Linked DNA regions of Homo sapiens: region 1 is linked to region 2. Evidence: fine-mapped expression QTL. A gene starts in region 2. The other region holds a variant in brackets. All regions are shown on one strand. Distances are between the middles of the regions. Region 1 has its middle 310 kb from the start of XKR9. Region 2 holds the start of TRAM1 (translocation associated membrane protein 1).

Region 1 (2,914 bases), 380 kb before region 2:
AAAATGATTGCCTAAAAAAAAAAATTTACCATATTTGTTCTTGTTTTTATTTTTAATTCTCTTCAGAAAAGCTATTTAGAAAGAAAAAATTGAGGGTAGGAGGGTGAAAAAGGAAGAAAGAAAAAGAGATAATTATTTTCCTCAGGTAGCATATGCCTTAGAAGTTATGATCACTTCTTGAAAATAGAATTATTCTCAGAAATGCCAGAAACATTGCTCAAATACATGTACAAAGATTGTCCATTTCAGCCTTGTTTATGATAATAAAAACTTAGATGCAATCTAAAGTGCATTGTGATGATGTCACCTAAGATTCACCAGCTTGTGCATGTGTCTTAATAGCAAAGATTGGAACCAACCCAAATGCCCATCAATGATAGACTGGATAAAGAAAATGTGGCACATATACACCATGGAATACTATGCAGCCATAACAAGGAATGAGTTCATGTCCTTTGCAGGGACATGAATGAGGCTGGAAACCATTATCCTCAGCAAATTAACACAGGAACAGAAAACTAAACACTGCATGTTCTCACTCATAAGTGGGAGCTAAACAATGAGAATACATGGACACAAGGAGGGGAACATCACATGCCAAATTTTAGAAATTCAGGGATTTCCTCCCACAACATATCAAACATATTAAAATGTTTTCATATTAAATATCATTTTGCTTTGTAAAAATCAAAGGGCTTTTTATAATTTTGTTTTTGGAAAATTATCTATAACTAACTATAAATAACTCATTTAATTTATTATTAGTTATACCTTCTTAGCAATCATTATGAATACTTGGGAAATCTTGAGAAGTGAGAAAAGTCTAACATATAAATTGTCTTTAAATGTAATAAGTTATTATGGATTCTAAATTTAGCAATTAATGAAGATGACATGATGTTACATTTTACAGACTTTCCATTAAACTTCCTAATAATTTCAGTTTTACAGTTTTATAATTCTTATTTTAAAGCCAATTAATATTTTTTTAGTTCTCAACATTTTCACAGGCTTAAGTCCTTGGTAATTCCCACATTGTACCTCAGGTACTTAATGAATAGAATGGCCCTACTTGCTATACCAGTGATTCTGTCAGGGGGCAAATGAGGTCAACACTAAGTACAGGATAATTTTTCTATAATTTATAGAGATTTTGTTTTACCTTTTTTCCCTTTGCCCATTTAAAACAAATAGCTAGG[C/T]CTTTGGGCATCTTCTCACTAGAGGCATTTGTGTTGCAGCATAGATAGCAGAAACTGCTTAGAGTCAAATATAGTTGCTGGCTTATGTTTTACTGAGTCTTTATTTCCCAGAACAACTTGGGACATCCAGCAAGGAAAGAAAGGAGAAAGCAAGTGGCTTCAAGAGAAGTAAGAGAAAGGGAGAGATTACACAGGATAGGGAAGAGAACAGAGATGATCAGAACCCACAAGATGCAGTAAGACTTCAGAGGTGATCATTGTGATGGCATCATGGGTCCAGGCCAGGGAAATTCCCCTGGGCCCCCCTTGACCTGCAGACAGCAGAATTGCCTACCTCTGAGGCAGTGGGTCTGAACAATTAGAATAGCAGTGGCAACAATGATGGACTGAAGATTACAGGCACTTCTCATTTCTCTAGGTACCAATCACATAAGCTTTCCAGACTCGTGAACACCCAGAAAAAGGAAAGACACCCCCATAGTGACTGAGTTTTAATGTCCTACTGCTAGCAACTCAAAAAATAAAGATAATTTCATATATATAATTTAAGGTGATGTTTCTTGCATACCAAAGTTTGTAGCGTAAGCTCCTCTTAAAGGTATCATTATTTTGTTTCCATCATGATTGTTATTCAGGCCCTGAATGGTTATTCTGGCCATAGCCATGTGGCCTAGTGAGCTAGAAATTACATTCGCTTCGACTTAAATAGCAAAAGTTCAATTGATTTATTAAACAGATATTTATAAAGCATTTATTTTATTTTTTATTTTATTTATTTATTTATTTATTTATTTATTTATTTTGAGATGAAGTCTTGCCCTTGTCCCCCAGGCCAGATTGCGATGGTGCGATCTTGGCTCACTGCAACCTCCACTTCCCGGGTTCAAGCGATTCTCCTGCCTCAGCCTCCTGAGTAGCTGGGATTACAGGCACCTGCCACCATGCCCAGCTAATTTTTGTATTTTTAGTAGAGACGAGGTTTCACCATGTTAGCCAGGCTGGTCTTGAACTCCTGACCTCAGATGATCCACCCGCCTCAGCCTCCCAAAGTGCTGGGATTACAGGCATTAGCCACTGTGCCCGGCCTGATAAAGCATCCACCATGGGCAAAACACTATGTGCTGATGCTGGGGAGAGCTTAATGAGCACAGTGCCAGCCTGCATGGAGTCTGCCAGGAAACACAGACATTTAATAAGAAATTATGGTAACAGGCTGCGTCAAGTGGTGATACAGGAAGTTCAGACGGTTATGAATGGAAAGGAGATCTAGCAGAGGAGTCCCAGAAGGTCCCCCAGATGACATGGCTAAGATCAAAAGAACAAATAGGAATAGTCAGGCAATGAGGAAGAACAAGGACTAGTCCAGAAAAGGGGAAAGAATGCTATTTACCAAGTCTTGAAGAAGTAATCACTGAAGTCCTTGTGGGTCATTTAACTCAATTGTGCATTCGAGATGAGAATTCTCTCATAGTTTACTGATACACTGTAATCTAAACTTTGCTATCTGACTCAAAGGGCCACCACTTCATATTTGAGAATTTAAACTAGAAGGGGTGACAGTAGCTCTTGGATGTAACAACAATGGATGACACATGAGTGACAGCTGACAACCTAACGTGCAGGCTGTTGTGTGAACACAGAATTATATTGACACATAGAATAAAAATTAGTCCCAATAATGATACAGAGGAGTAAAAATACCACTTAGAAAATGT
Region 2 (2,914 bases):
AACTGTATAGTGTGTGTAGTCAATAATGCTGGTACAGAGATTATGGCCTGTAGATGCAGGGCTCCAGTCTGTTGGGGTAGGCAAGGACCAAATCAGAAAGGGCTATTTCATCATGCTAGCTTTCCATGAAGGGAAAGGGAACCCGCTGAAAAACTTTCTGCCAGTAGAAGCATCATTCTAGTATAAACGTTGAAAGGTGATCTGAAGGGAAATGAAACTAGTGATTGCCCAGAAGGAGGAAAAGAATAATCCCTGACTAAATTTATAAAGCCCTTACTCCCCGCTAAGCAGTTTCCTTCAATCATCTCATTTAATCACTAAAATGAGCAATAGTTATCCCCACTTTATAGATGATATCCACAGGGCTTGCTCCCTCACCTCCTGCAGGTCTTCAGGCAAGTATAAGTGCCTCGCACTTTCCTATTCCCCTTGCTTTATTTTTCTCCTGGTTGCTCAACTCAATTTAACATCTGTTTCGCTTTTGAAATCTTGTTTAAAGATTCTCTCCCACACTAGAATGATAAGTCCCTAGGAATAATTTAATTTGTATTTCAGTTCTGTATCCCCAGTGCCCAGGACACAGTCAACCCTCAGTAAGTACATAAATGAATACATTTTTAAAAATGAGGAAATCGGGTCCCATAGAGATTAAGTAACTTGTCCTTGATCGTACAAGTAATAAGTGGCAGAATTCTGATTTAACAACCCACATTCTTAAACCACTAAGTGGTTACACCAGAGTTGTAATATTGTAGGCAAGAGGCAAGTACCCTCGGACTGCGGTAGTGGGGAAGCGGGGTGATAGGTCTGCCTCGAATTGGTGATGACTGGATGTGGAAGGGCGCTGAAAGGGCTCAATCTAGCATGACTTTGGTTTCTACATTTGGCTTATGGGTAAACAGGAGAGCAATTCTTCAGGAAAAAGAATACAAAGGACTCCAGGTTTGGGCAAAACGATAAGAGGAGGACGTGTCTTAATCCACGATCCTTTTTAACTCTTTTACTATTTCCCTTAGATTACTAAAACATGTTGTTAATTTGAATATATGTGAAGCCAGTAAACCCAAACTGATCCCTTCGTCTTCAGTCTGAGGCCAGTGGGGGATAGGGGTGGGGATGGGGACGGGGATGGGGGTGGGGACGGAGAGGCAGACCAGAATAGGGTCAGCTCTTTTTTTTTTTTTAAGTTAGTCCAAACTTACCAAGAGTAGAAATAAGTCCCCAGCAGTGCTTAACTCTGAGGTAATTTTTAAGGCAGATGCTAAAACTGGAGAATACACCGTACCCTTGTGGAGTCAGGTAGTATTCGTAGTTTTAGATTATCCTGACGGTGTTAGTCACTTGTAGAAGTGACAATGTGCAACAGGCCACTGACACCCAATCCCTGGATGGCCAGGAGGGCAGGAGGGCACCCGGCCGCGGCCTCAGGCTGCTGAGCAGGCGCAGGAAGCTCGCGCCTCAAACGACTCCCAAACCCGGGCCCGGCGCGAAGCAGGGAAGCGCCGCTCACATTCCTGCACGCTCGCCCGGCCGCGGGCCAGCGGCCTCCGGTCCCCAGGTGGCGCTGTGGGCTCGCGGAGGCGGCCGCGGCACCAGGGAGCGTCGTCTCCCTGGTGCGCATGCTCGCCCCCGCTGCGGGCTAGCTGTTGTGTTTTTTTTTTTCCCCCGGGCGGCCCGGCGGCTGCGTACTGGCTGTGGGATGGGAAGTGAAGCCCCAGCGAGCGGCTGCAGCGGGGCCGTGAGGAGCAGCCAGCGGGAGGCGGCGGCGAGTCGGTGAGCAGCTGGGAAGAGCAGAACCGGGGCGGAGCACCTGCAGGCGCGGGCGGCGGCCCCACCATGGCGATTCGCAAGAAAAGCACCAAGAGCCCCCCAGTGCTGAGCCACGAATTCGTCCTGCAGAATCACGCGGACATCGTCTCCTGTGTGGCGATGGTCTTCCTGCTGGGGCTCATGTTTGAGGTGAGCCCGCCCCGAGTCCCAACCGCCTGCCCCGCCACCTCCAGCCCGGGCCCGGGCTCCAGATGCCAGCCCCGGCTTCTCCGCCCAGGACGCGGGGGGCTCGGGCCCGGGGTGGGTGCAGACCCCCAGTCCCTGAGGTGCAGGCCTTCCCTGCCCTGCCCCACGTCGGCGGCAGCTCCCCGGCGGCCGGCCCGGAGATGCAAAGTCCCGGTGGGCCTCATCGCGGCCCGCAGGGGGTGGGGACCGCCGCGTCGCCCCCTTCCTGACCCGCCGCCGCCCCCTCCCGCAGGCTGCGCGGCGCAGTTCCTGGTTCCCGCGAAGGGTTACGTGGCAGCCGGCGAGGGGCCTGCGGGCGGGGGCGGCCCCTGCGCTGCCGAGCTGGCTCGGGGCGGGTGGGCGGACTTGGGGGGACTGCCAGCCTCGGCCGCGGTGAGCGTCAGCCCCGCGAGGGCCGGGGAAGGCCGAGGCCCGGCCCCCGGGTCTGAGGAGTGCCGGCCTGGAGACCACAGGCCCCGAGTGACAGGGGAGCCCCCGGTAGCTCCGAGATTGGGGTGAGCGAGAAACCGGAGTCAGGCATCTGCTTTCGACTTGAAGGGCGGTGGCCGCCGGGCACCGGCGCAGTGGAGGCGCGCCAGATTGTTTTCATTTTTGTCTTTTAAACTGATATTATTACCAGTTAACGAACTTTTTGCCCTGACGCTTTAAAGAAACAAGGTCTGATGGATAAATCGAGGTTCTGAACAGCGGTGCCAAGGAATCGAGTAATTTTGTTTCTTGAAGTAGGAGAGGATGGGAATGTCAGGAGTGTGTAAATTCTCTTCCCACGTATCTAGTATTTTGATGACTTATTTAACAGCTGTTGAATGTGGATGATAAACTTTGCAAGGTGAACGAGTAACATCCTACGTTTTTCCCCTCGCTCCCCAATACACACGCTCATTCCTTTGCTTTTTTC

Evidence for each region. PIP is the estimated chance that this variant, and not a neighbour inherited with it, causes the effect.
Region 1: its variant is fine-mapped to the expression of TRAM1 in whole blood (TOPMed, PIP 0.94).

The regions. Positions count from the first base shown.
Region 1 is chr8:70,982,870-70,985,783 of GRCh38, reverse strand. It overlaps a transcript of XKR9 not described here. Among named protein-coding and RNA genes, the nearest start is that of XKR9, 310 kb to the right of the region's middle. The variant C/T (reference allele first, on the strand shown) is at 1,200.
Region 2 is chr8:70,607,122-70,610,035 of GRCh38, reverse strand. TRAM1 (translocation associated membrane protein 1) reads left to right here and starts at 1,620. Exons shown (of 11, transcript NM_014294.6): 1 at 1,620-1,959. The coding sequence starts at 1,837. It overlaps LACTB2-AS1 (LACTB2 antisense RNA 1), which reads right to left and starts at 1,459. Exons shown (of 4, transcript NR_038881.1): 1 at 1,203-1,459. RefSeq lists silencers at 1,454-1,623, 1,704-1,753, 1,814-1,873, 1,924-2,103, 2,124-2,573.